Regions from separate parts of the Homo sapiens genome. Here all the other regions are reported to be linked to region 1. The links are microRNA targets in miRTarBase. Many come from high-throughput screens and were not tested one by one. Region 1 holds a microRNA gene; each other region holds the end of a gene's coding sequence.
What was found. The annotated mature microRNA hsa-miR-4768-3p reads CCAGGAGAUCCAGAGAGAAU and lies in region 1 at 2,979-2,998, shown strand. An mRNA with a match to its seed (bases 2 to 7 or 8) in the 3' UTR can be bound and repressed. Matches are read on the target gene's strand: a 7mer-m8 pairs with bases 2 to 8, a 7mer-A1 pairs with bases 2 to 7 and ends in A, and an 8mer does both.

Region 1 (4,067 bases):
ACTTCAAAGTGGCAATTCTGAAAATGCACTAGCAGTCTGAATCTCCAAGTGATTTTTAGACGTTTTGAAAAATCCAAGAAATTCTAAGACCACCACAGTTTGGAACCATGCCTTGAGTAATAGGCCTGGGATAGACATGAAATTCCTACACTGCATTTAATTAGGAGGTTTTGATCAGGGTTCCAACTGGCATTTGCAGCTGATGTTTGATTAAGAGAAAGTCCTGTCTCAAAATATGAGAAAACTTGAATAATAAAAGCACTGTGCCAATGGCTTTTCATGTATTTGTTTAGAACCTGCCTTGGTTCCAGGAAGGATTTAATGTGGATTTCTATCATTGCATGTGCTGTCTTCATCAATGGTTTAAAATATCAACCAGGGTGAAGATATAAGAGAGGAATATCGAATCATTGCTTAGAAGAAGACTTGAGCAGGCATCTCCTCCTCCTCCATCTAAGCTTCAAAAGAGGCCTCCCCTAACCAGACAGTCCAGTGAGATAATGAATTAATTAGAGACTTGGAAGGGTTAGCATGAGAGCCTTGTCTGTCTTGCCTCTGGCCCTCTGTCTGCTCGGCTAGATCCTGGTTAGGAGCTTTTGGCAGTCCTCAGGTTGGGGATGAGATACCTTGGCAGGCTTGAGTGGGCATCAAAGACACCAGGAAGGATCCCAGCCCAGTTTCTGGCAATTCTATCTGTCACTGGGTTTTATGCCTGTGTTCAAAATATTCCATTTCTCCATCTGTAAAATGGAGATAATCCTTCCTCACCTTGCAGGGATGTTGGGAGGATTAATTAGCTAGTGTTCCTCAAGTGCTTTGAAGATGAAAAGGCTTGTGGAAGTGCTAAGTATTAAGGCAAGGCAGCGAATGCCTGCTGGAAGTGCTCTTCCTTTCCTCATCCTCTTGTCAGCAGTTGTGTTTCTCTTGCCTTTTCTGCATATTTCACAGACCAAAGTGCTGGCATGGTAGGTAGGACAATGCATGGATCAGCACAGAACAAAGACAGTAATGCCTTATTTTATGCCTTGCTACTAACTTGGCTTATCAGTTGGCATGACCTCTGAAGATCTTTTTGCTCTGAATGTTTTAATCATCAAGTTCTGGTGGTTATCCAAGGTGATCCTAATCTACTTTGGGGTGGAGGGAGGAAGTGGTGTCAGGAGAGATCAAACCAGGCCACCTTGAGCTGAAAGCTCTGAAGGAGAAGGATTCCTTGAAATGGAGGTAATTTTTGAATTATAATAAGTGAGAAGACTGCAAGGGAGACAAGCTGAGGGACAAATGCTCTGTGCTTTTCTCCTCACTTTCACAAACAGGAGGAGAACTTCCACTGACCTAGCAGTAGTTTGCTCCTCCAGGCTGTCATGTCTTCTGATCATGTCTTTTATGAGGTGAATTTCTCCTCATGAAAGACTAGACTTTAAGGAGAGATTCTGTGCAGGTCCCTACAGTGTGGAGATGGATTGATTGGGCCTACAGATTGCAGCTAATCAATTCATCCTTTGCTTCCCAAAGGTTTATGCATTTGGGTGGAGTTCACAATGAGTGGTCTGGGTGCAGGGCCGTGTGGAGAAGCATGTCCACCGCTCTTGCCCCGGTGGCTTCTTTAGATAATCTTGCAATCTTCACAGGTTCTTTTCTAGGTATGTTATTGTTTGGAATAACTCCCTTGAGTTTGGAAGAAGAAAAGGAATAGTACCAGGTTTACTCAATCATTTGTTAGTTTGCTTGTTATCTTAAAAAATTCTATAAAATTCTTTTGAGAAGTTTCTCTGCTCATTGATCTTGAAAATCTCCTTGCTTTAGAGAATGGATGTGCTCCTCATATGCTAAGGATAAACCAGATTTTGGTAAATCAGGTTATCTTAGGGGTCCCAGGTGAGTTTGCCATTTTAACGATGCTTAGAGTGAATCCTTGTATAAGGGAAAGTATCTTGTATATTCTGTATCCTTTAGGAACTCACGTCTGTTGACTTTATCAGATGTTGGGGTGGTGGTGAGGCTAAAGACCAATAGGCGACATATGGCAGGATCTTCCCTCCAAGTGACCCTCTGGAAAGGGCTATACTTACTTAATTTTGGTGGAGCTCATCATAGGGTCAGGAAACCAGGGAGAAAGCTGAGCAACTGGTATTTATAGATCTTTCTCTTTAAATCAGGTTTGCTCATGATTTGTCTGGTCTTTATTCTTCTCCATGTCTGAAACTGAGTTCCTTGGATTCCCTTCTCTTCAAAGCCCTCTTGGCAACCTTCTGAGGAATGGCAGAGTTCATTCTGATCCACGTCCGGTGAGCGTAGCTCAACCGTGATGGAGCTTGACCTGTCAAATTCACAGAAAAATGTCCGTTACATATTCCAGCTGTTCCTTAAACATGCTCCCTAAGAGCTAGTTCCATTTGTTAGCTGTCAGAACGATGTGGAGGAATTGCTCCAGACCCTTGGATGTCATCAACCACTTTTGTTTATACACCAGTTATTTTCTCTATTAGCAAATCAATGTTTGGCAAAAAGAAAGCACAGGCTAAGAACTTTTCCTGATGAGTTGCTGCCCCAGCCTTGGAACTCTTCTCAGCCAAAAAAAAAAAAAAAAAAAAAAAAAAAAAAAAAAAAAAAAAAAAAAAAAGAAAGAAAGAAAGAAAGAAAGAAATTGAGGAGGAATTCAGTTTTACATGTTTTCCTTCCTGCTTACATGAACAGAGGAGGCCTACCTGAAGCTGAATCCAAGCACTGCCTTTGACGTTGGTAAAGATGGGGCTCTGAGCTCACATATCACCTTGGAAACTGGATCCTGTTACTGCTGGGAAAGGAATGCTTGGTTGCCAAAAGCATTAAGATAGGGAATGTGGATTCCACCTCTCAGTGCTCCTGCCTTGGATCAATTAGGTAGGATACTACCCAGAGATACAGACATGATGGACCAAGTAACTTCTCCAAACTTTGATTCTCTCTGGATCCCATGGATATGGGAACTGTGATGTCCAGGAGATCCAGAGAGAATCAGAGTTTCAGTGAGTGAAACCTAGAGTGTGTGCTGCTAGGATTTTCCTCATAAACCTGGGTGTTTTATTCTTGTGGGCCAGAAAGTTATTTCATTCCTAAACCCGTGATGTAGACTTCTCAGAAATTCCAGTGGTGTGGAGGATCCAGCTTCTATCAGCTCACAAGAGCTGATTGCACATATCTCTCCCCAACTGCTGTTCAGTGGCATCAAGTTGGTAGCTTGAAATCTGCCATGATGAGAGTATTTACACTATAGAAATTGGCAAATATGGCAAATAAGGGTCCCCACCACCCATGCTTGTGAAACATCTTCCAGCACACCAAGGAAATTATCCTAACACGTAACATCACTTATGGGGGCTGTTTAGCTTCAGGGGAGGAAATCCCCTTTGCTCTGATCTCATTGTGTGTACCTGCTTTGCATAGGCAGACTACCCCTTGTTCTCTCATCTATTAAACTCGACCTGAGAGAGAGCTTCATGAGATGGGTTGTGTGACAGGAGATCACTAGGGTAATGAGTCTGTTCCTTTCGCTGCTCAGCTATATGACAGGTTATTTTACCTCTCTAGGCCTCAGCTTCCTCTTCACTATAATAAAAGTAATTTAGATCATTAAATAATTGCTAAGTTTCCTTGTAGCTTCGACATTCTGCAATTTGATGAGTGCTTGGCTGCTGGAAAATGTCATGTGTTTCAAAGGCTTGGGGCACATGCACATCATTCACAGTGACCAGCTGAGCTCTCTCATTTTCTTTCTGGATCTTGGACTCCCAGTAATTCTACTTTTATCTGGACTTCTATCTTCAGCATGAATGAGCAGGGTGCCTCTAAGTGAGAAGCATAATTGATTAGTTCCTTCCATCTGGGGGTGTCAAAGCACTTTCAAGTCAGTAGTCAGTATCCATCATGGTTGCTCTGCAGGGAAGACTGCCTGAGAGTGCCTGTTTTGCAAGGGACATATCACAGTGGTGGACCAAGGACCCAGAATTATTGACTTGTCTTTTAATCAGAAAAGGGGCTACTTCCTGGTCTTAAAGAAGTTCCAGCTTTGAGATTAATCTGCTGTC
Region 2 (4,066 bases), not on the chromosome of region 1:
GAGATGGGGAGATGCTAGGCTTTTTAACAAGCAGTTCTCATGGGAACCAAGAGAACTTATTTACTCCTGGGAGAATGTCACCAAGCCATTCATGGGGGATCTGTTCCCAAATTTCTCCCATCTGGCCCCACCTCCAATATTGGGCATCAAATTTCAACATAAGATTTGGTGGCATGAAAAACAAATCTCATGTCTTTCTTGCATTGCAAAATACAATTATTCCATCCCCCAAAGTCTTAACTTGTTCCAGCATCAACTCAAAAGTCTAAAGTCTCATTTGAGACTCAAGGCAAGTTCCTTACAACTGTGAACCTGTAAAATAAAAAAAGAAGTTATTTACTTCCAAGATACAGTGGTGGTGCAGACATTCCCATTCCAAAAGGGAGGAATAGGCCAGAAGAAAGGGGTAATAGGCCTCATGTGAGTCCCAAACCTATCAGGACAGATATTAAATATTAAAGCTCCAAAATAATCTGCTTTGACTCCATGTCCCGCATCCTAAGAACACTGGTTCAAGGGGTGGGTTCCAGAGCCTCAGGCATCCCCATCCCCATGGCTTTGCTGGGTGCAGCCCACGTAGCTGCTCTCGTGGGTTGGAATCCAATACCTGCAGCTCTTCCAGGCTGAGATTGTAAGCTGTTGGTGGCTCTACCATTCTGAGGTTGGAGAGTGGTGCCCCTGCTCCATCTGCTCCACTAGGCACTTCTCTAGTAGAGGCTCTCAGACCCTGTGGCAGCCTTCTTTCTGGGCACCCAGGCTTTCTAATACATCCTCTCAAATGTAAGTGGAAGCTGCCAAGTCTCCACTACTCTTGCATTCTGCATGCTTGCAGACTTAACACCACATGGAAGTCTCCAAGGCTTACTGGGTACACCTTCCAGAGCAGCAGCCTGAGGCCCTTTGAGCTGGTGCCGCTGGGGTGTGGGGAGCAGTATCACCTGCCCCATCAAAAAGCCATTCTTTCATTCTAAACTTCTTAATCTGTGATGGGAGGGGTGGCAAAGATTTCTGAAATAGCTTTGAGACATTTTTTCCATAGTCTTATTAGCACCTGGCCCTTTTTAGTCATGCTCATCTCTTTAGCAAACTATTGCTGCTGCTTGGTCATACTCTTAGATTCCTCTCCTAAAAACACTCTTCTTTCCTTCTCTAACACAAGGCAAGGCTGCACATTTTCCAATTTTCCTCTGGTCTCTACTGTAAGCAGTTAGAAGTAACCATGCAGCAGCCTGAGCACTTTGCTGGTTAGAAATTTCTTTTCCCAGATACCCTAGGCCATCTCTTAAATGAAGCCTTCCATAAAGCCCTAGAGCATGGACACAATGCAGACAAGTTCTTTGCTACGGTGTAACAAGTGTGACTTTTGCTTCAGTAACTTATAAGTTCATCATTTCCATCTAAGGCTTCCTCAGTATGACCTTTGCTGTCTCTTTTTCTATAAGCATTTTGGTACACAACTACTTAACCAATCTCTAAGAAGTTCTACACTTTCCCTTGTCTTCCCTGTTTTCTCCTGAACCCTCCAAACTCTTCCAACCTCTGCCTATTACCCAGTTCAAAAGCTACTCCCACATTTTCAGGCATCTTTAGAGCAATGCCTCACTCCTGAATACCAATTTTCTTAGTATGTTTAGTGTTGCTATAAAGGAATATTTAAGGCTGGGTAATTTATTAATGAAGAGATTTGGCTCATGTTTCTGCAGGCTGTACAAGAAGCATGGCACCAGCATCTATGGCACCACGCCATTCATGAGCGATCCACGCCATGATCTAAACAACTCCCACCAGGCCCCGCTTCCAATATTGGGGATCAAATTTCAACATGAGGTTGGTGGGGCCAAATAAACCCTAGGCAAACCATAACAGATCTGTAATTAATTCTTAAATTCTTTCCAAAGAGTACACCAAAATGCAGTCTTATTTAAAGAAAATACTGTGTATGTTTTGGATTGGATGCTACCTACCAGAAGATATTGTAGATCTCTTAAAGTTAGATTATAAACTCTTCAAAGCTACAAGAGTAGTATGGCCAGTTCACACAGGGTGAAGAACTGTATCACTCAGCAACAATGGTAAGTTAAAATCCCAGTTAACTATCAGTTATCTGTTAAACAGATGCCCTGAGAGAAATGGCATACATAATTCCTCCCCCACCACCAAAAGCTACTATAACATTAGTGTTAAAAATCACTGAGTTAGGGCTCTACTACTCATTCTAAAAACATGAAGCTTTAAGTTTCCAAGTGAAGGGTTTTTAAGACATTTTGTAATAATCTTTACTTTTAGTCACTTTGCCAGGTTTTTCTTTGAGATTTTATTTTCCTCCAAAATCTATTAATAGGCCTTCTTTACCATTATTCCTATGAGGATATTGCTTGTGACCCTTTTCTTGAGCTGCCCCAGGGTCCTCATGTGTGATCTCCTCACTACACTGAAAACCCAACTTGTTTAACTACAGGTTTGTTGCCAGTGGTCTCTGCCTGAAGGGTGTTAACAGAATTATGGCATCTCCCAAATTAACTGATATTATAGGTCACATAAAAAAGTAATTGCAGTCATTTTATTTTACAGACTAAAAAAAAAAAAAAAAACCCAAGACAGTATACTGTAGTTTGTTAGAAATAATTTTTTATACACTAGGTTATAACTTATTCACATATATAAGCTTATTATCATAATAAGAAAAGGTTTATATATTTTGGGTTTTCTTGTTTTAATAAAATAAATGTGCTAAGGTTCCTTTTTAATACTTTTTGGGAATATGTTTTGATGACAGTAGAAAATATTCAACATTAATTCACTAAACAACCAAAGAAGTAAAATTTTGATACTACCTCCAAAGTTAAAGATAGCAGGCATATCTTAACTACTTCCCAAAAAGACTAGGGAGTTAGGTAAAAGAGTGAAGGCATTTGAGGATTTTTCAAGTTCCAGATGACCAGACAGAAACTGTAAGCCATTGGCTACAGAATGAATGATAGCAAACACTAAGGTTTTTATGCACTAGACAGTGTATGTAAACACTTACTTATCACAGCTCCTGATATGAGCTGTTAACCAATAAATGAGTTCCATTCAGGCATTATAAACTACTAGATCCTTAAGGCAATTCCTATTTTATGGTTTTAGGCAAATACTTATAGATACAGCAATATAAATGTTAGTTTCCTAGATTTGGCAACTGCTAAAAACAGTCTTCAGAACTACATTAGATGCTAATGATAGAACTACAAAGACTAATTTTAAAGTGCATATCAGGAGATAATAAATCCTGCAGAAGCCTTAGCCTCTGTACATATAATCATAGGTTAACAGTTTTACAAATTCACGAACATTAAATTAATATGGAACAATCTAAAAAAAAAACACTCTTTAAGATGCATCCAGTTTCTTATAGGCTTCTTCAATGAAGGTTGACATGCTCTTCATCTGTGATGAATTATGAAGAATATCCAAGTCCTTTAGAAGAGCATTCTGGTTTGGAATTAGCGCCAAAATTTCTTTCTGTGGGAAAGATAGTATTAAATGTAGTTGTTAACATTTTATTATGAGAAATCTCAAATGTATGTTAGAGAGAACAGTAAAATAAACCTTAAGTATCTATCATCCAACTTCAATAATTGTCAACGAATCGCCATTCTTCTTTCAAATCTATCTCTCCCTCTCCCCATCCTGCTCCTTTCACCACTGGTAAATGATAGGATTTGTTTGTTTGTTTGTTTTTGTTTTTTTGAGGTGGAGTTTTGCTCTTCTTGCCCAGGCTGGAGTACAATGGCGCAGTCCTGGCTCACTGCAACCTCCAGCTCCCAGGTTCAAGCAATTCTCCTGCCTCAGCCTCCCGAATAGCTGGGATTACAGGCATGTGCCACCACACCTGGCTAATTTTGTATTTTTAGTAGAGATGGGGTTTCTCCATGTTGGTCAGGCTGTTCTCGAACTCCTGACCTCAGGCAATCCGCCTGCCTTGGCCTCCCAAAGTGCTGGGATTACAGGTGTGAGCCACTGTGCCCAGCCAATAGGAAAATTTCAAATTACTTCTTGAGAAAACATGAAGACTTTCCAATGC
Region 3 (4,066 bases), not on the chromosome of region 1:
ATGTCACTGTCTCACTGTTCTGCAATTTATGAACTCAACGTTAAGTTTAATCCTCAGTACCATATCCAATATACACTGATGTAGATAAAGCAAGAGAGCTACTATAAAATCTTCTGTTTAGCAAAATAAATCTTTAGAAGATGTAATTGATCACCCACATAGTGATCTGTGCTGGATGGGGATGGTAAGGGAAATGATAGGACCAACACTTTGATGATTCCCCTCCTTTGTACTAGACGGACTCATGAAGTAGTCAGTTTGGCGTATTCAGTAGGGAAGTGCCCATGGGTACCATTTCCTACATCTGGGGTCCTTCAAAATTATCCCTGAGATGAGAGTTGTGGGGACAGACCCCAGGGTAGGGGTGCAAATACTTTATACTTAAGATGGTATTGCCAGAAGTTCTCTGTCCTGTTGGTTTGAGTCAACCATAGATGTACTAGACTTGATTTTTTTTACAATCTTTTCTGGTGACACAAACTCCATTTTCACCTAAGTTAGCTGTCTGGAGACTCCATTTGCTAGTAGTGCCACAAATTTCACTAGATAATGCTCTGTGGATTCCCAGGTCTTAACAAAGCAGCCGGCATCATTTCTATTTCTTAGTCATCAACCTTTGTTGACTCTGGCAATGTTCCTTGCTTGACTGCCTTACTTTGAGGCATGGATGGAGTGGGGCTTAGTGGGCACCTCTTGCCATCAAGCCCTATTCCAGAAGCCCTTTCAACGGGAGATACCTTCTGGTTTTGGGGCTTTGGAAGGACATGTGGGTCATGCACAGTAACTCCTCTCTTAATACTGTTCATGGTATTGACTCCTCTCAGCTTCTGCTGAACAGCAAATATATTCATATTTTATAGTCCTTTAAAATATTATTTATATTATCAACTAGTGATATAATTAACTGGATCAGACACAGTATGGCTTTATGCATAGGAATTAAAATTATAGGATCTATTCCTGGGCTTCAAATCTTGGCTCTGCCATTGGAGTTTTAAATAACCTCTTAATTTTGAAATAACTATCTTATATTTCTTCTTCTTTAAAACTGGAATATTCTAGTTTTTTAAAATTAAAAACAAGTGCTATGTTGTATTAGCTCTCATTTTTATAAGTAAAGCTGTCATAGTCAGTGGTTTTTAATAAAAGCATCCCATTAAATCCAACAGAGCAGCTGCTGTGCTGTTGGAACCTCAGCACCCAGTCAATGCCCTGGAAATCCCCATTACCATGCCCCTAAGCTTTCCCAGAACCAGAGTCTCGCTGATGCTGTATTTCCCCCAAGTGTATATATATGGGTGGCTCCAGGTGATGTGCCTGTCAGCAGTGGGCAGCTGCAGCCTCTGAGATCTGGAGAAATACCATAATGACCTACAAAATGCCAGCACCACCACAAGGGGCAACATTTCCCCTGCCACATTTAGGCCCCTGGTTGGCAGCAAGCAGTGATAAGAGGCTGGCTGATAAGCACTAGAACAGTAGAAGTCCACAGGGGTGCCCATCTAGGAATCCCAGTGCTAGAGGCAGCTCATATGATGTCTGGGCCAGTCTCCTCAGATTCATAAAGGCCAGCGGCACAGGAATTTGTGTATGTGGGCAGGGTAAGAGTTTACTGGCATGGCACTAACAATTAGAATGGACACAAAAGCAGGGCCCTGGCGTCTCCTGCTGTGCCAACCATTCAACACTGGTTAGATTATGTGGAGGGACTGGACTGAAAGTGGGATGTACTTGAGGGGGGTTCAGAGGAGTGCTAAACTAGTAGGGAAGTGCTTTTGAAAAAGCTAAGTAAAGCTGTTTTAACACTTAAAAGGACCCAAAAGCAGAAATCCAGAAAGCTCTTAAGAATGACTAGCAACTAAAACCAGGAAGCCACTGATCCATAAAATTCTCTCCTATCACCTCTGCCTTTCTCGGTAAGCACACTCACTGCCCTTAAGCATGTCAGCTCTGCTGCTTCCAGGTATATATACAACAGCTGCAGTCACAAAAAGAGATGGGCTTTCTTTTCCTGAGCTAAATTCCAAATTTTCAGAGACTGGCCCAGTTTGGGTCCTATCTCCATATATGGCCAAAATGATAGGTACAACTGTATAATTTGGCAGCAGAAACCCAACCTGTGGAGGTGGGTTCATAAATAGAATAACCAATCTAAATTTAACCCATTTCACAGATGAAGCTAGAAAGGCAAACAAATGCGAAGAACCTTATATGCCATGATACCTTCATGTGGGTGGGAGATAAGGAAATGTAGTTTTATAAGAAGTAGATGGTTTAGCCGGGTGTGGTGGCTCATGCCTGTAATCCCAGCACTTTGGGAGGCTGAGGCGGGCAGATCACCTGAAGTCAGGAGTTCAAGACCAGCCTAACCAACATGGAGAAACCCCGTCTCTACTAAAAATACAAAATTAGCCAGGGTGGTGGCTCATGCCTGTAATCCCAGCTACTCGGGAGGCTGAGGCAGTAGAATCACTTAAACCTCAGAGGCGGAAGTTGCGGTGAGCCAAGATCGTGCCATTGCACTCCAGCCTGGGCAACAAGAGCAAAACTCTGTCTCAAAAAAAAAAAGAAGAAGAAATAGATGGTTGTTTCACTAAATGATGAATATGCAAAACACATTTGAAGAGACAGGGAAGAATATGGTTTTGGACATATAAGTTTAATTACCTGCTAGACTATCAGATGGAAATATGTGGTAAATGGATGGAAACAAGGTACATAAACTTAGGAGGCAGAAATTTTTAAACTTTAGGGTTAGACATTCACCAGATTGGACAATTTTTAACATTTAAAATAAAACTTTTTGTCATAAAAAACAAATGTATTAAAACTAGTTTCCAGAACTGCCCAAATGACTTTTTAAACATGACTTAAATGTCGTTTTGACAAATCTATCCAAAATACTAATTTTCCTTTTAGAACTTAGTTTATAATTTATATATTAAAGTGCCCTTAATTGATATTCATTGGGATACCTTCCTCTGAGCCCTAATGGTTTTGGGAGGCCTAGGCGGTGGATCACCTGAGGTCAGGAGTTCGAGACCAGCCTGGCCAACGTGGTGAAACCCAGTCTCTACTAAAAATGCAAAAATTAGCCGGGCATGGTGGCGGGCGCCTGTAATCTCAGCTACTCGGGAGGCTGAGGCAGGAGAATTGCTGGAACCCGAGAGGCAGAGGTTGCAGTGAGTCAAGATCGCACCATCACACTCCAGCCAGGATGACAAGAGCGAAACTCAGTCTCAAAAAAAAAAAAAAAGTGCCTAAGTATCTTTTAATTAAGTTGTCATTCTCAAAGATATTCTGGAGCAAAAATCAGGAATTAAACATCTATAAATTCTTCTTCACTTCTGTTATAGTGTAGTAATTTATCATCTAACCCATAGTGGTCTATCAATTGAGTAAGGCTTAGTTTCTTGTTCTCTTCAGACACAGCTGACTGCAACTCATAAAGCAAGAGCTGGCTACAGCTTCTCCACTTCTTTATTAACAACTGTAACTGAGACAGATCATTCTGAAACAGAAAAAAAAACATGTATGTCAATAACTAGTCATGCTAGTTCAACTTAATTAAAGTTGTTAAATTAGTGGATGTGCAGGTTTAAAGGCTAACATACACAGGGATGAATGGGACTTCTATCTAGGAAAAAGTAGGATGGTCATATGTAGAATGGTTACAATGTCACTCAACTTGAGTTCTATGGCTATTTTGTTGGCTTAAGCTCTGGGCCATCTTTATGATAAGGGAAAAATCAAATCATTAAATAGGGCCAAAACTATGTCAAGAAGCAATAATACAGGGAAAAATCTACTGTATTACAACTGTACTTTTTAAAAAATGACACTATGCTTTCCACTAAATGTTGCTATGAACCTAAAACTGCTCTTTAAAATTACAATATTCAAGTTAAAAATATTTTTTTAGGCTGGGGATGGTGGCTCACACCTGGGATCCCAGCACCTTAGGAGGCCAAGGTGGGAGGACTGCTTGAGCCCAGGAGTTCAAGACTACACTGTGCAAAATAGCAAGACTCTATGTCTACAAAAAAATAATTTTAAAAAATTAGCC
Region 4 (4,067 bases), not on the chromosome of region 1:
CTCAATAAATATCAGGACCAGTGGATTAGTGTTTTCAGAGTCATTTGGTTGTAAATAAGAGAAAACCACTCACAGTCAACTAAGCAAACAAGTGTTAGAGGGAATCCAAAAATATCATGGACCCCTGGGGGAAGAGGTACAACCAGAATAGGGCAATAGGAAGTCATCAGGAACTAAGATGGTTTCTCTCTCCTCTAGTCTGAACTATTAAAGCAGGATAATCTTTATTTTCTTTGCACTTAGGTTTCATTCTTGTTCATTCTCTACAAACCAACTTTCTCCGCTGATGACCTAGACATAGCATTCCCAGCCTCCCATTTTCCCAGATCAGGAATTTCATTATAAATCCCAATTACAAATCCCTGCTTAGAGAAGGGTTGAGTCAGTTGTACCACCATGGTCCAGTTAACTATAGCTGAGGGAACAGGCATGCGGCTTTTTAATGTCTAAGAGGGTATTTTGTTCCTAGAAAATGAAATGCCCTCATTGAGTTGAACAGACTAAATTTGTTTTAACAATCCCATTTACAATTCAAATTCCTTTAAACAACTTAATAGCATTTATACATTTAAAAAAATGATTCTTTTAAGCAGCATTGCAAATGCTTGACCCCATTAGCATAAACCTTCCCAAGTGCTTAAATCTCATAAACATAATAAATTAAACATACGGTGACTTTCCAAGTTCTCTGAAACATTTCAGTACTTTTGCAGACTTAGTAACATTTTAAAATACCTTTCAACTGAAACTCATAAGTCTAAAAGTCTGTTAAGCATTTTAAATTAGAATCTTAAGGCCAGTGTCACATATTGTAATATGCCAATTATGTTTAAATACTTCAAACAGCAAATACTACAGTTTATCTCAATGAATATAATAACCATTCCTGCTGGGCGCAGTGGCTCATGCCTTTAATCCCAGTCATTAAGGAGGCTGAGGTGGGAAGATTGCTTGAAACCAGGAGATTGCCTCAGGCCTGGGCAACATGGTGAGACCTCTTATCTCAAAAAATCAAAATAAAAAATTAGCTGGGCATGGTGGCTCATCCCTGTAGCCCCAGCTTCTCAGGAGGCTGAGGTGGGAGGATAGCTTCAGCCTAGGAGACAGAAGCTGCAGTGAGCTATGATCACACCACTACACTCCAGCCTGGACAACAGAAAGAGACCTTGTCTCTAAAAACAAAACAAAACAAACAAACAAAAAAGTACTCCTGAATTTAAGTATTGATGGCTATGGGAATTGCTTCCTAACCTGTTTGAAAAATGTGTTAACTGTTACATATTTTGAGAACTGCAGCACTCAGTGAAGCTTTGTTAAAGGGAATGAGGAGTTTAGGCCCCAGCAGGCAAACCACTTCACAGTGCTAGGATGAAGAGCTCACACTCAGGGACTTCGAGAGTGAATCAACTACTTTCGTTAACTCAATGTTAAATGAGAATAACATCAACCTTGGATGGTTGTGGTGAGAATCAAATGAAATGACATATGGGAAAACCTTTGTCACATGTTACACAATTGACGGCAACTACAGCTTTAGGTAGAATTTCAACTTCTAATTTTTACTACTATGCAAATTATCAGAATATTTATGATGTTAACTTTTTAAAAAGGTTTTTAAATAGAAACTTTATTTAAATAAATGAACTCTTCTCAACCCCAAAACCCAGCTTCTGATCTTGACTAAGTTCATAATTACTCAGGGAAAAACACTGCTGGTTCCTTATAAGCCACTGTGCTGTACGAAATCAATTCATGAAAAGGAAACGCCCTATTTCCAAGCATACCTGTACTAGAATATATTAAGTATATTCACTTAACATATTAATTTAAATGTTAATGTTAGTCTAAATGTTAAATTAATTTAATATGTTAAACTTAATACGTTTATTTAATTTTTACTTAATACCCTTACTGGAACATATTAAGCATTTTTTCGGCTTAAAAAAAACAAAAAAACAAAAAAAAACCCTGAATTTACAGAACTAAAATTATGAGAGGAGATTCGCATTACAAAATCTTCCTCTATGGGTTCTTCTAGCTCAAGACATTTTTCTTACTGATTTTTAACTACTTGAGTTGGCGTAATAATTAGAGAAAAGCAGGAGAGGTAGCAACTGTGAAACCAGTGTACTAGGAGTTACTAGCCAATGATTATCTATCAGGAACAGATACATCAAAAAGCCAAGAAAATAAGAATCTCTCTTTATAAAAAAATAATAGTTACAGGCTGGACACAGTGGCTCACACCTGTAATCCAAGCACTTCGGGAGGCAGAGGCAGGTAGATCACTTGAGGTCAGGAGTTTTAGACCAGCCCGGTAAGGTGAAACCCCGTCTCTACTAAAACTACAAAAATTAGCCAGGCGTGGTGGGGCACACCTGTAATCCCAGCTACTCAGGAGGCTGAGGCAGGAGAACTGCTTAAACCCGGGAGGGCAGAGGTTGCAGTGGACTGAGATTGCATCACTGTACTCCAGCCTGGGCGATAAAGCGAGACCCTGTCTTTAAAAAAAAAAAAAAAACTTCTAAAAAATAATTATTTACATTAAACTTTTAAAAACAACTATTTTTCAAAGCAAACTGCTCTGCATTGGGGTTCCGAAATACAATATGATTGTGAATAATGGGGGGAGGAATCTAAATACAAATCAGAGAAAACAGTTTTCAGAGGATTAGGTAGCTTAGCTACAAGATTAGCTTGAAACATATGAAGAATAGTCTGAAAGGCTGTTGTAAGAAAAATGACAAATTCTATCATTCCTCTGACCTGAAACAAGGTGAAAACTTGGTAGAAAGGCTGCATGAAGAAAAAAAAAAAAGTAGTCCAATAAGGTCTATCTGTAGAGCTTGCTCTCACACTCTGAATACAAATCTAGCTAGTGTCAGTTCTTCAGAGCCGAAAACTTACTTGCCACACTTGGAACCGATGCAGTCCCATTACCAGCTGAAGCAGGGCATGTGATCTAAGACAAGTGTAGATATCAAGGAGACAGGAAGCAAGCTAAGCAAGGGCCTAGAAATCCCAAAGGCACTGATTAAAGTCAAGAAAGAGGCTTTTTGTTGTTGCCAATTGTTTTTGTTGTCTTCCAGAGGTAATACAAGGCTTTGCTCCTTTAGCAGGATTCCCAGTTGGACCCTCTCCAGAGAGGATTCATATTTGAATTCCCATCTGAATACCAACCCAAATGTTGATACAGAACACTCCTGTATTAAAATTAATATCCATCCCAGATAAACCTACTCTGTGACTAAGACAATTGAGATCTTCTAGGTGAAGATGCTATAATTCAAAATATTACATGGAAAACCATGTCTTACTTAAAACGGGTACTTGTTTTCCGGCCATAATTATTCCAGTCTCTTCCACAGAACTGCTTCTGCAAACAGTTTTTTTAATGTATCAAAGAGAGTCTCTCGCCAACATTTAATACAGTCAAATCTATTCCAACTTCAGAGTTCTTATATGTCTTATTTAGCAGACACTATGATTCTATCTTCTTATTCTCTGGAAATCCATCAGATGTGTGTTCCAACACAGAAGTGCCTTCCTTCCTTCTCATGGTGGCAAAAAGCATATCCATCATCCCCAAGGTTTCTAACAATTCTCTTTGGTAATCAATCTCTTTTTCTACAAGTCCTTGAAGTAGTAAAAACTTTTTATCAACTACAGGGGACTGACCAATTACAGGCAGATATATATCTAAAAAGAGAGAAAGAAAACACATTAACTAGCAATATCTTTCCATACATTAAGTGAAAAGCAAAAGTTTTTAAAAGTATAAAAATATTAAACATAAGAACACTGAAAAATCTGTACTTATTTTATAATTAATTAATGATTTATAGAAAGTATAACAATCCCTCTGAGTAAATTAATTTCAAAAAATAATAATTACAGAAAGTATAGGGTGGAGTTCCTGACTTATTTTCATTTTCCCATTTGAAAAATTGTCATCGTCATTATAGATGTCTATGAAAAAAATTTTTTATAATAACCCTAGTCCCATCAATTCAAAGTCACACCACTATAAACATTTTACTACTTTTTAAACTGCACTGACTTGTTGT
Region 5 (4,067 bases), not on the chromosome of region 1:
AGGGCTCCTTGATTCCCCAGAGCCACCCCTGTTAGCAAGAGTTCGGTGCCACTCAGCACCTCGCGGGGCCTCCCCAGGGGACACCACGCCTTGGTGGCGAGAAGGGGCTGTGGCAGCAACTGACCTCTAGCTGGAGATAATACAAATTGTTTTCTTCTCTCCCCCACCTTCCCAACCTGAGTAGAGTGTAAAGCGTGTTACCATAAAGCCTGCTTCAAGTCTGGAAGCTGTCCGCGCTGCGAGCGGCTGCAGGCCCGGCGGGAGGCACTGGCCAGGCAGAGCCTGGAGTCTTACCTGTCAGACTACGAGGAGGAGCCCGCGGAAGCGCTGGCCCTGGAAGCCGCCGTCCTGGAGGCCACCTGAAGAAAGCACGTGCAGCCCTCCCTCCGGGCCGGGTCACACCTGTTGCAGAACTGAGCCACTCTTTGAAGGACTCGCCCCACCTGGGGCTTCTTTTTTTTTTTTTTTTTTTAATTATCATCATCTTTTTTTTTTTTTTTACTGACTTGTCTGACGTCTGTGTGCAGTCAGCCGTCGGCAGGTTGATGGGTCCAGAGTCTGTGGTGACAGATAATTTGTAAACACCAGGTGTTTCCATCAGAACTGACATGCGGGTCCTTCAGTGAAGCTTCTAGTGCCTCTGTCAGTGGAAGAGACAGCAAGACCAAGTTCTTCCAGCGTCTGTGGCCTTCTCCTCTAGGTTTCACCTGCATGTCAGGTATCATTTCCAATTTTCCTTTGTTTCAGTTCTGGAGCTTCTGAGCCAGGCCTTTCTCAACCACCTCTCCTGCTGCTGAAACGGGGATGGCGTTTTCCCTCTCCCTGTCCTGGACTGGGGTCAGACTGTGCCCCGAGGAGAAGCAGCAGAGAATAGGACTACGTCATGGGCATTTCGTCCACTTATTTGGGTATTTTGGGGGCCACAGAACAATCCTGACTATCCTAGACTCCTCAGAGACCTCAGAGGCAGCTGTGAATGTCCCTATGTTGCCGGGAGTTCCTGTTTGAAATATTTGAAGCATAGAGGATGCCACAAGCTGACTTTCTTCATCTACCTTGGTGATCTTGAAGCAAAGAACAGAACTGATGCTCAGGCCAGGCTCACCTGTAGCCTTACGCCGCAAGCATACGTGAGGCGCCAGCTCTGTCGCTGAAGGAGCGCTTACTCAGAGGAGCGGTCGGCCCCCTCTTGGTGTTAAGGTCTCTTAGTTAACCTGGCTTTTTGGTGCAGGTGTGATCTTTGAAGCTCAGGCAGGTCCCTGATGCCATCCTAAGGTGAGGACAGGAACCTCACCCACCATCTTCTTAGCGTGTCCCTGATGACTCTGTCCTCTGTTAGATGGTCGTTGTGCTTCTGAGTAAAAGTACAACCCGACTCCGTTCTCTCCCCTTCCTGCAGCAGAGCTGGGTCCTTCCCTGGTGGCCGAGTCTCTCTTGCCTTAGCTTCTTTGGTCAAAGTTGGAGAAAAGCTTCCTGCTATTAGTGCTGTTACAGAACTTGACGGTTTGTGGATGTGAGTGTGAATGTCCCTGTGTTCTTGGGATAACAAGAGCCTTTATGCCAATTATGCACTTAACTCTGTGTAGCCTGGTAATGTTTATCTGTTCATTTGATAATGCTGATTTTAGTGTGCTGCCCCCCTCCCCCCGTTAATGTGTGTTGATGGTGAAGTCCTTTTGATAATGCTGATTTTGGTGTGCTGCCTCCCCCTTCCCCCCCGTTAATGTGTGTGTTGACAGTGAAGTCCTTGGGTGGGGCCATGTGTGTGTTTGTGATGTTCCTTAAGTTGATGCAGCTTCTAACCTCTGTGAAAACACTGGTCAGAGTGGCTTCTCCAAGAGCTGGCAGCTCTGTGAACTAAAGCCTGCATCATTTTTGTTCTGGGATTGAATTCTGCCCATGGGCATGTCTTCTCATAGTTGCTTGCTGGTAGGAAAGAAATGGGCGTGGGTGCTGCCCTGGAAGCTGAGCGGAAAGTTGCCTGTGGTTGGTGGAAGCTGATGAGAGCTTGAGCTGGCGGTAAGAAGGAGTCTCCCAGGGAAGTGGGAGAGGCATTAAGGTGATGGCCAGGGCTGAGGCTCCACCAGCGTGAGAGGGAACATGTGGGAACTGGCCCCTGCCCTTGATTCCTCTGCCTCAAAGTTGGGATCTGAAAGCCATGTAGGGCTAGAAGACCCTGAGGCTGTTCTCCCTTCTGTTCATAGTGAGACTCAAAAAGCCAAGTCCCAGAAGTTCTGAAGGGCTGTGACTAGAAGTGCCCAGGTCCTTCAGGGAGCTTTAAGAATGACCCCACAGAACTCAAGTTTAACTAGGGGTTAGGTCCCAGATTCAGACCCAGGAGTTTATAAAAATGAGCTCTACTTCCAGTTTTGGTTTAAATTACACATCCAGGCCAGGCACAGTGGCTCACACCTGTAATCCCAGCACTTTGGGAGGCCAGTGCGGGCGGATCATGAGGTCAGGAGTTTGAGACCAGCCTGGCCAATGTGGTGAAACCCTGTCTCTTCCAAAAATACAAAAATTAGCTGGGCGTGGTGGCACACGCCTGTAATCCCAGCTACTTGGGAGGCTGAGGCAGGAGAATCGCTTGAACCTGGGAGGCAGAGGTTGCAGTGAGCCGAGATTGCGCCACCGCACTCCAGCCTGGGTGACAGAGTGAGACTCCGTCTCAAAAAACAAAAAGGTGACACATCCAGCTCTTTCTCCAGGTCACTGCGCTGGAGGACAGATGTGCCGTCTTGTCCTGCCTGTTTCACATCAGCATAGGATCAAAGGATGACAATGCTGACAGCTTCTGAAGCCGAACTCAACAGTCTCATAGGCTCCTCACTTGTCACTTATTTTTCCCTAGCTCCCTCAACCGCACCCCATCCCTTTAGATCGTGCGTCTGTTTTAGTGACTCTGACACGATGCCGTCCTCACCTTCCAAATACCCAGTTATTTATTCAAGAGGGGGGAAGTGGGTAGAGGATGGGATGTTTTGGAAGCACTTTGCAAGTTACCACTATCTGAAAATCCCCTGCTGTTGCGGGGAGAAGCTTTGAATGCACTGAAGAGAATTCCTTCTAAATGAAGGCAGGTGATAGTGTTCTTTCTGTAAGTAAAGGGAAAGAAAAAAAACATAGTTTGCTTACCAGGTGGAGACAAGATTCAAGACATAGCAGAAGAGTGGAAGACAAATATTTTCCACTTAAATGAGGCTGTTTTTGACGTTCTCTGCCAAGGATTTAGAGCTTTCGTTGAACTAACATAAAAGGAGTGCGAGTCTTAGTAGAGATGTTCCGTGTGTGCCGCCCGTGCTCTGAACTGCGTTTCCACCTGCTGTGGTGCTTGTGCAGCCTGGCAGTTCATTGTCATCTTTAATAAACTAAGGAAATAAAATTCTGTCTTTCGTCAGCCTGCCTTGACTGTCAAGAAATGGCATGTGTCCACTGTAAAGCAGGTATATCTGAACATTGAGAAGGTTTCTGTGTTATAATGTAAAGCAAACTGGACCACACACATCAAGGAAAGTGAGGTGGAGTGGCTGTGTCTCTAACTTGCCATGAGACCTCGAGCGAACCACTTCACTTCTCTGGGTTTCTGGTGCATGGTGTAACTGTCACTTAAAATGAGGTGTCTTCCTCTCCGCAACATCTGACTTGCCTTAGATGCTTCAGTTCCCACTTCTGTGAGCAGCTAGCATCTTTCTCTTCTGCTCCTGGCCCACTGGAGCTCCAGCTCTACGCTGCAACTCTCTCAACATTTCCCCTTAAATGTCCCCTTGTCATCTCCAACCAGTGTGTCTAAAACCAGCATAAATTCCGTATTTCCAAAAACCTAACCATTAGTCACCCAGGTTTGAAAATTAATTGTCTTCAACTTCCTCTGTAAGTGGCACACTGAGCTCATCACGCATCGTCTCATTCCTACTCCCTGTCATCAAGTTCTGTGGATGTTTTCCTCTAAAATAAATCTCTCATTACTTTTCTGCCACTAGCACACAAATTCAGGTGTTCTTGATCATACATTATTTTCCTCCCTGCGCCTCAGTGGAACAATGATTAGAAGCACCTTGTGGGATGAG
Region 6 (4,067 bases), not on the chromosome of region 1:
GCTCTTTCCCAGAGGCACAGCTGGGACACATCTGGACTGGAAAGGGGCTTGCCTCTCCTTCCCAGCTCCAGGCCTTGGAGTAGACAGGCCCCTTCTCCCTCCCTGCCTCCTCGAATACCGGGAATTCCGACGCCGCTGGGAGCCTGGGCCAGGCTGAGAACTTTCCTTCAGCCGGGAATGTGCAGCTGGGGCGGAGGAGGGGAGCGTCGGCTGCGGTCCTGACCTTGGGGAGGCTCCAGTGGAGTGGATCACTCCAGGCTGAGGAGTTCACCTCCGTCACCACGGGGCCCCCGGGACACAGCCTCGGCCCTGGTGTACAGTAGCCAGTCAATAAACAGTAAGTGAGCAGAAGCCAGCAGCTAATATTTATTGAGCCAGGCCCTGTGCTGGCAACTGTGCTCAGCTAATTATCAGAATCCCCTGAGGTGTGCACAGTACCAGGCCACAAGCCTCATGCGGGCAAGGCAGTGTTCTCTCATGTATCCCCACTGGCAAGAACAGCACCCGGCACAGGATAGGCACATTTATTTATGTATTTCATTTTATTTTTTTGAGACAGTTTTGCTCGTCTCCCAGGCTGGAGTCTAGTGGCGCAATCTCGGTTCACTGCAACCTCCACCTCCCAGGTTCAAGTGATTCTCCTGCCTCAGCCTCCTGAGTAGCTAGGATTACCGGCACCCACCACCACGCCCAGCTAATTTTTTGTATTTTTAGTAAAGACGGGATTTCACCATGTTGGCCAGGCTGGTGTGGTCTCGAACTCCTCACTTCAAGTGATCCACCTGCCTTGGCCTCACGAAGTGTTGGGATTACAGGCGTGAGCCACCGCACCTGGCCAGGACAGGCAAATTTAATGGTAGACTTAAGCCAAGCTGTGTGGATTCGAGTCTCAGTGCTGCACCTTCCTAGCTGTGCGACTAGGCAAATCCCTTAGCCTCTCTGTGCCTGCCTCAGTTTCCTCACCTCTAGACTGAGGATTAAAAAACATGCTCACTTGCATATTAGGAATGTAATGAGGACAGTGAACGAGCTTATATAAAGCGGCTGTAATGCTCATAGTATGTGCTTAGTACCCAGGAAATCTCAGCTTATTTGCTGCTAACTGATTGCTAAAAATTCAGATTCCTGGGCAGGGTATGGTAGCTCACGCCTGTAAACCCAACACTTTGGGAGGCCGAGGTGGGCGGATCACCTGAGGTCAGGAGTCCAAGACCACTATGGCCTGGCCAATATGGCGAAATCCCGTCTCTACTACAAAATACAAAAATTAGCTGGGCGTGGTCGTGGGCGCCTGCAATCCCAGCTAGAGGCAGGAGAATCACTTGAACCTGGGAGGCAGAGGTTGCAGTGAGCCGAGATCATGCTATTGAACTCCAGCCTGGGCAACAAGAGCGAAACTCCGTCTAAAAAAAAAAAAAAATTCGGATTCCCAGCCAGGAATGATGGCTCACGCCTGTAATGCCAGCACTTTGGGAGGCCGAGGCGGGAGGATCACGAGGTCAGGAGATCGAGACCATCCTGGCTAACATGGTAAAACCCCGTCTCTACTAAAAATACCAAAAAAATTAGCCGGGCGTGGTGGCGGGCACCTGTGGTCCCAGCTACTCGGGAGGCTGAGGCAGGAGAATGGCGTGAACCCGGGAAGCGGAGCTTGCAGTGAGCCAAGATCGTGCCACTGTACTCCAGCCTGGGCAACAGAGCGAGACTCTGTCTCAAAAACAAAACAACAACAACAACAACGAAAAATTAGCTGGGCATGGTGGTGCACGCCTATAATCCCAGCTATGTCGGGAAGCTGAGGCATGAGAATTGCTTGAACCCAGGAGGTGGAGGTTGCAATGAGCCAAGATTTTGCCACTGCACTCAAGCCTGGGTGACAGAGTGAGACTTTATCTAAAAAAAAAAAAAAAAATCAGATTCCCAAGCTCCTCCTTCCCTGGGGATCCTGATTCAATAGGTTGGGACTAGATACTGGGGGATCTGTGATTTGAATGATGCTCCTAAGCAAGTCAGAGGTTCAAATATGTTTGGGAAGTGGAAGGATATGCTCCCTAAATCTTTCAATGATCCCAGGAGGGAAGTACTGTTGTCTTCATTTTGTAGATGAGAAAACCGGCTCAGAGGGAGGACCCACACCAAATAAGTAAAGATGGGACTTGAATTCACAGCCAGGACACCAGGGTGCTTCAGAGAATCCTAGGGGAGCTTACATAAATAATGTGCTAAAGCACAAGAGGCTAAGTATTTGATGAAAGTAGCTAATATCATCACCAAAGAAACCGTTTAAATTGTGCCTCTCACTGGGCATACCACTGCTGGAACAAGGGGGCAGACAGAACCTAACATAAAAGCCTTTTGTCTCCACGACCTGAATTATTTTGCTGGGGGAGGGAGCATGTGGATGAATTGTAGAGGCTGCAAACTGCGGGGAGGAGTGAAGGGATCTGAGGTATGTGAGTGGGTACAAGAACTGGGATATTCAAGAGGAACTGACGGGAAGGATGCCAAGGGAAATCAGACAGATGTGGGACAGACTTATCCCAGAGCCCCAAAATTGATCTCCCCCGTATCAGCATGGAATTGTCTCTGAAGTATCATAGTACTAAGACCCCGGAGAGTCCAGTGAGGGAGGGATGGGGTATGTCGATGGATTGGGAGATGGCTGGGTGAATATGTATGGATGGCAAAATGAGTGGATGAATGGACAGATGGAAATATGGAGGGAGAGACGGACTGATGAACGGAGTGCTGGATGGAGAAGATGGGTAAGTGGGAAGATGGATAAATGGAGGGATGGAATGCCAGATGGGGTTAGAATGATAAAGGGATGGGTGGGTGAATAAGGCAGACAGTTGGATAAGCAAGGCAGATACGTGAGATGATGGATTGGAAGATGGGTAGATGGAGCGGGAAAGCTAGATGGAGCAATAGCCAGATGGATAGGTGGAGAGATGGCAGGGTGGGTGAGATGAACGGATGGTGGGAGACGTGAACTGTATAAATTGCCAAGGGAATGGATTTCTAGTGTCTACTTGAAGCAAAGCTTCTTAACTTGGCTTTCCTGGATGGGCATCAAGCAGTTCACACACACGCCAAGTTATAGTGGGTCCATTTTCCAATAATTCTCAAAGGAGTCTGAGATTCCCCAAGCTTTCAGAACCGCTGATTTGTTCTGTGTCAGACCTTCCCATTCATTGTCTTGTCATCTCCCACAGCCTCCAGAATGGGAAAATACACATCATTGCATGAAAGAATCAGTATTAACAAAACATTAATGACATTCCTCCCTTCCCCATCCCTGTGGATCAAGGCAAGAAGGGCCATTCGCCGATGCAGATACCAGGAGTTGGAAGGCCGCAGCAGTTTTGAGGCCTGCGTTCAGTGTCTGGACTTCCAGGTCAAGTTCTGAGGGTCTATGGCATCTGGCTGAAATCCTTGCTTCAGGGAAGCCTCATGTCCTGGCTCACATGTGGAAGGGGGCATCAGGAGCCCCCTGGGCCCTGTGAAGGCCCATAGATTCCTGTGTGGAGGCCAAGAGAGCAGGGTGGTTCAACCGGACCTGGGCCTTGGCTGGCCGCAGCCGCCCACCCCCGCCCACGTGGATGTTAACCGTCGTGGCATAGCTGAGCCGCCTGGCTGGGGGAGGTGGTGGCTGGGGCTGGGGGGGCGGCGAAGATGCCCGTGACGTGGGAGCAGAGGACCAGGAGCCCCGGGAGGCTGCGGGGGCCCCTCCCCCAGGCCCCTGCCGCCGAGCCAGGCTCTGGCTGATATATGAGGCTGCCAGGTATCTGGAGAGGGCAGCTGCATTGGGGCCCAGGAGCTGACGGCTGGAAGGTGGGGGACTATGAGGTGGCGTCAAGTCTGAAGACTCCAACCTGGCAACGTGAGAGGCTAAGGAGCCTCCTGGTTTGGACAAAACCATGGTGGTCTGAACTGGGGTGGGTGAGAGGCCCTGAATGTCTAGAGAGCCTCCTCTCTCAGGTAAAGGTGTGGCAGCTGGAACATGGGCATCTATGAGGCTCTTCTGCTCCAACGAAGGTGTGAGTTTTTGGACCTGTGTATCTGTA
Region 7 (4,064 bases), not on the chromosome of region 1:
GGCTTTGAACAGGAACACACTATCCCCAAGGCTGTAGCAAAGGCAGTCAGGATGAGTATGAATGAAGAATGATTTAACAATGGGGCTGAGTTAAGAAATCACTCCATTTTCTTGAAGTCATAAGCAAGATTTTCTAGGGAAGGGAGACGGGGAGACAGGAAGGTTGTCTAGTGGCCTCAAGAGTGAGCCTCATGGGAGGATTATTGGCCCTCATGGGGGAAGGGAGGGGGTGGAGGCCATGCACCTGCCAGGGCACCCTCAGCCTCTGTGGCAGCACTGGGCTGCCCAGGGAGGAGCAGGGAAGTCAGACTGGGTGGGATTGGGGTTTTGCTGGCAGATGTGTAACAATGGATGCCAGGAAACGAGAGGAGGAGGAGGACCAAGTCGGGCTAGGTGAGAAATGAAGGAAAGGCCACGAGGAAGCAGGCTGGCCTCTCCATCAGCCTCCCTGTGAGCCACACGAGGGATGAGTGCTGGTCTCTAATCGTGGAGACCAATTCTTAAGGCTCAGGTTCCCAGGGCCAACCCCAACCAGTTGTTTTTCCAGGTGGGACCAATCTATTACAGAACAGCATGGTTGGTGGGTTTGAGGGAAGACAGGATTCTGAACACAACAGCACCAAGTTCTGTTCCTTTTTTTTTTTTGGAGACGGAGTCTTGCTCTGTTGCCAGGCTGGAGCGCAGTGGCACGATCTCAGCTCACTGCAAGCTCCACCTCCCTGGTTTAAGCGAGCCTCCTGCCCCAGCCTCCCGAGTAGCTGGGACTACAGGCAGGCGCCACCACACCCAGCTAATTTCTGTATCTTTTGTAGACAGGGTTTCGCCATGTTAGCCAGGATGGTCTCGATCTCTTGACCTCGTGATGCCGCCCGCCTTGGCCTCCCAAAGTGCTGAGATTACAGGCGTGAGCCACCATGCCCAGCCAAGTTCTGTTCCTTTTACATCATACGAGACAGGGTGAAGAACGTCATTTCTGATCTTTTCCATCATTGGCTGCAGGGGTCTTCATCTCTGTTCCAAATACCAGCCAAGCAGTGTGCTCACCCCTTTGCTGGGGATCTCCGCCCCTTCATATTCACAGAAAGATGAAGTGTACTCTGCCATCGTCTGAAAATCGGGTTTTGTGTGTGTGAAGTTGAGACACAATGAGACGTTTGGTTACTAGTTGAATCCTTAGTAAAGTGAACAGTCACTCCTAATCTTTTATAAATGTTCATATACTGGACTTATAGTTCGGCTTATTTATAGTTAACAACAGTTGTCCCAAAAACCACCAAAGCCAGTTTGGATCATCTGCAGGACTTACCCAAGCCTCAGAGAAATATAGCACTCAATGTTTCCCCCAGGGCATGTGGTTTTACAGGGGAGACCTGGCAATGTTAGGCACCAATTTCTGGCCTGGTTATTCTTGCTAAGTTAATACACCCACCTGCCCACCTTTGGAAAGTGCTGCTTTTGTATGCCTCTTGAAATAAGAGCATCCCCATCCTGAAAGAATAAAATAGCCCACTGTAGCTTCCACAGCAGTACTTGACCCTGGTAGGCACTGAGCAGCTGTCTAGTAAATGACCCAGTAGAAATGTTGTCAGCACCAACTCCTCTGTCCCAGCCTTGCATTTGGGGGCACATCTATCGCTTGCTAGCCCTACCACAAACTTCCTAAGTGCACTTGCTCAGGACCCCACAATCCACTTGGTCCCCTCTCAGCTGTGTCCCTTGTTTCCAATGCCAACCAGAGTCTCTGCTCCTCCTGGGAGCCCCATCTGCAGGTCACCCCAGTCCCATCCCCTTTACGCTTCTGTCTTGGAACTTTGGCAAACTGTTGCAAACTGACCCCCCATCTCACGTCGTTCTCTTGCCTCCCACACCTCTCCAAGAACCCAGCATGGGGGCCCACACAAAGGTTTTTTTTTGTTTGTTTTGTTTTGTTTTGAGACGGAGTCTTGCTTTGTTCCCCAGGCTGGAGTGCAGTGGCGCGATCTCAGCTCACTGCAAGCTCCGCCTGCCGGGTTCATGCCATTCTCCTGCCTCAGCCTCCCGAGTAGCTGGGACTACAGGTGCTCGCCACCATGCCCAGCAAATTTTTTGTATTTTTTTTAGTAGAGATGGGGTTTCACCGTGTTAGCCAGGATGGTCTTGATCTCCTGACCTCATGATCCGCCCGCCTCGGCCTCCCAATGTGCTGGGATTACAGGCGTGAGCCACCGCGCCCAGCCCACAAAGGTTCTTAATCCATGTTTATTTGGACAACCCTGATGACACCAGATCAGCTCAGTCCCTCTAGATGCCTTGCCTCTGCCTGGGTCTTGGACATGCCCTGCACCGCACATCCATACTGGAGCTGACGCAGTGCCGGGCTCCCCTGGATGTCCCTGTTGAAGCTGCTGGCATTTCCTTCTGTATGGGGCAGCTCGTTTTCTAGCTGCCCCCACCCACCCCTCTCCAAATACCTGTTGGTTTTCATTTGGGGATACTTACAGGTTTTGCAGGGAGCGCTATTTACTGTGTCTGTAGGATATTAGGATGAATCACGCACTGTTCAGTTTCAGAGGAACTGCCCATAAACATGAAGTAAAATCTCAGGATAACTCCCAAGGGCCAGTTCACCCTGTGCTCCTTGCCCCAGCCTACCCACCTCTTTCCTAATCAGGTGAGGAGGACTTCCAGCAAGCCGTGGCCTTGGCCTGATTGCACTGTGGCTGGCTCTGCCACGGCCGCCTGGACTTCCCAAGGCTCTGCCTGTCTGGACCTAGCAAAACGCAATGCTCTCTGTCCCCTCTGGGATACTACATTTACCAGGTCACTTGTGAAAAATTCCTAGTTCCCTAAATCTCTTAAAAACCAGAAAGTGAGAGAAATAAAACAATTTAATGATGGCTTCCTTGATTTACACACAACTCTAAGACAAGAGGACAAAATTTTCTCTCCATGCACTGGTACAACGAAGTTCAGGGACAAGAGGCAACCCAAGTACAGGGGCTGTGGTGTTCAGATCCACGCTCAGCCTCGAGTCTCATGTTCCAACCGACCGTCTGGCTCAGTGACTGTGGACACTGGGGAGAGGAGGGACTGCCCAGACCCCTCAAGTGCAGGTGAGGGGACCGGCAGCAGAGTATGCATGGGCACTCCATGCCCCAGTGCGAGAAGTGCACAGGGGACAGCGAACACCAGCTTCCAGTGCACCCTGAAGACCCAGTGGGCTCAGGGGGCCCAGCTCTCCCATCAGAGCTGTCCTCAGGGCTGGAGCTGGGGCTGGGGCTGAGGCGCTGGGGCTGGGAGGGAGGTGGTGATAAGAACCACTGCAGAAAGGAACACATGCTGAATGCTGGGCCATGCTTTCCTCCCAGACACTGAGTTCCTGAAGACCCAGCTTTATCTTCCAAGGGTAACAACATTCCCAAGACTCAGAGCTGGAAGGCGGCAAGAGTGGAGCCAGGAGAGACAGATCGCATCCACTCCTGAGGCCGCCTCGAATGTCTCCATTCCCTTCTGGCCTGCCTTCCCCCTCCCTTCAACCCCAAAGACCCAAGAAGACAACAGAGATCAGAGACCACATCCCTCTTCCCTAATCAAAATAGCCAAGTACAACATTTCTAAAGTTAGGGAGAAGGAGGAAAAATGCCACAGGCTTTTAAAGGGAAGACTGGAACCGAGGGAAGGGAGAAGTAGCCCCCTGCTTTGTCCAGCCTGGAAGCTGGCAGCCATGGTGTTGGGGCCTTGACCCAACCACACCAGCCCATCTAGCTGAGCATCTTGTGCCGATCGAAGACTGTCTTCCGCTGCTCCTGCACCTGCAGCTTCCACCGCTGCTGGGCACCTTCCACACGCTCCAGGACTGTGTTTGCTCGGGGTCCCCCGAGGGATGCAGCAGCTGCTGCCATAGAGCGAGCATCCTGTAGTGGGAAGAAAAAAAGAGAAGATCTGGCACGGTAAGCCAGAAGGGTCTTGGATCCTGAAAGTCTGACATGGAAAGAACGAACCCCAAAGCCTTACCTTCCCCAGACTGGGAGGCTGGGCCTCCCCAAGTGCTGCAGGCTGAGGACCTTGCCTTGTCATCTGCAGAG

Region 2: the mRNA of CENPQ is a reported target of hsa-miR-4768-3p. Seed matches in the 3' UTR shown: 8mer at 3,255-3,262.
Region 3: the mRNA of SFR1 is a reported target of hsa-miR-4768-3p. Seed matches in the 3' UTR shown: 7mer-m8 at 3,146-3,152 and 7mer-A1 at 3,029-3,035.
Region 4: the mRNA of UTP15 is a reported target of hsa-miR-4768-3p. Seed matches in the 3' UTR shown: 7mer-m8 at 2,409-2,415, 7mer-A1 at 2,395-2,401, 7mer-A1 at 2,296-2,302, 7mer-m8 at 2,100-2,106, 7mer-A1 at 1,065-1,071 and 7mer-m8 at 959-965.
Region 5: miRTarBase lists RUBCN as a target of hsa-miR-4768-3p. Seed matches in the 3' UTR shown: 7mer-m8 at 784-790.
Region 6: the mRNA of PLEKHG2 is a reported target of hsa-miR-4768-3p. Seed matches in the 3' UTR shown: 7mer-m8 at 1,620-1,626, 8mer at 1,500-1,507, 7mer-m8 at 1,311-1,317 and 7mer-A1 at 1,199-1,205.
Region 7: miRTarBase lists TMEM9 as a target of hsa-miR-4768-3p. Seed matches in the 3' UTR shown: 7mer-m8 at 3,434-3,440.

What each region holds. Positions count from the first base shown.
Region 1 is chrX:17,422,949-17,427,015 of GRCh38, forward strand. MIR4768 (microRNA 4768) reads left to right here and starts at 2,933; the gene lies at 2,933-3,006. The region is part of intron 1 of NHS (NHS actin remodeling regulator); the gene reads left to right.
Region 2 is chr6:49,491,582-49,495,647 of GRCh38, reverse strand. CENPQ (centromere protein Q) reads right to left here. Exons shown (of 9, transcript NM_018132.4): 9 at 2,541-3,504. The coding sequence ends at 3,373. Among named protein-coding and RNA genes, the nearest start is that of GLYATL3, 6.3 kb to the left of the region's middle.
Region 3 is chr10:104,124,958-104,129,023 of GRCh38, reverse strand. It overlaps SFR1 (SWI5 dependent homologous recombination repair protein 1), which reads right to left. Exons shown (of 4, transcript NM_001002759.2): 4 at 2,641-3,511. The coding sequence ends at 3,320. Among named protein-coding and RNA genes, the nearest start is that of SFR1, 4.8 kb to the right of the region's middle.
Region 4 is chr5:73,579,509-73,583,575 of GRCh38, reverse strand. It overlaps UTP15 (UTP15 small subunit processome component), which reads right to left. Exons shown (of 13, transcript NM_032175.4): 13 at 196-3,699. The coding sequence ends at 3,482. Among named protein-coding and RNA genes, the nearest start is that of UTP15, 16 kb to the right of the region's middle.
Region 5 is chr3:197,671,314-197,675,380 of GRCh38, reverse strand. It overlaps RUBCN (rubicon autophagy regulator), which reads left to right. Exons shown (of 20, transcript NM_014687.4): 20 at 185-4,067. The coding sequence ends at 363. MIR922 (microRNA 922) reads left to right here and starts at 805; the gene lies at 805-885.
Region 6 is chr19:39,424,691-39,428,757 of GRCh38, reverse strand. It overlaps PLEKHG2 (pleckstrin homology and RhoGEF domain containing G2), which reads right to left. Exons shown (of 19, transcript NM_022835.3): 19 at 343-4,067. The coding sequence ends at 3,464. Among named protein-coding and RNA genes, the nearest start is that of RPS16, 9.2 kb to the left of the region's middle. RefSeq lists a silencer at 1-289 and an enhancer at 60-705.
Region 7 is chr1:201,131,923-201,135,986 of GRCh38, forward strand. It overlaps TMEM9 (transmembrane protein 9), which reads right to left. Exons shown (of 5, transcript NM_001288565.2): 5 at 2,850-3,893. The coding sequence ends at 3,741. Among named protein-coding and RNA genes, the nearest start is that of ASCL5, 6.8 kb to the left of the region's middle. RefSeq lists a silencer at 2,625-2,831.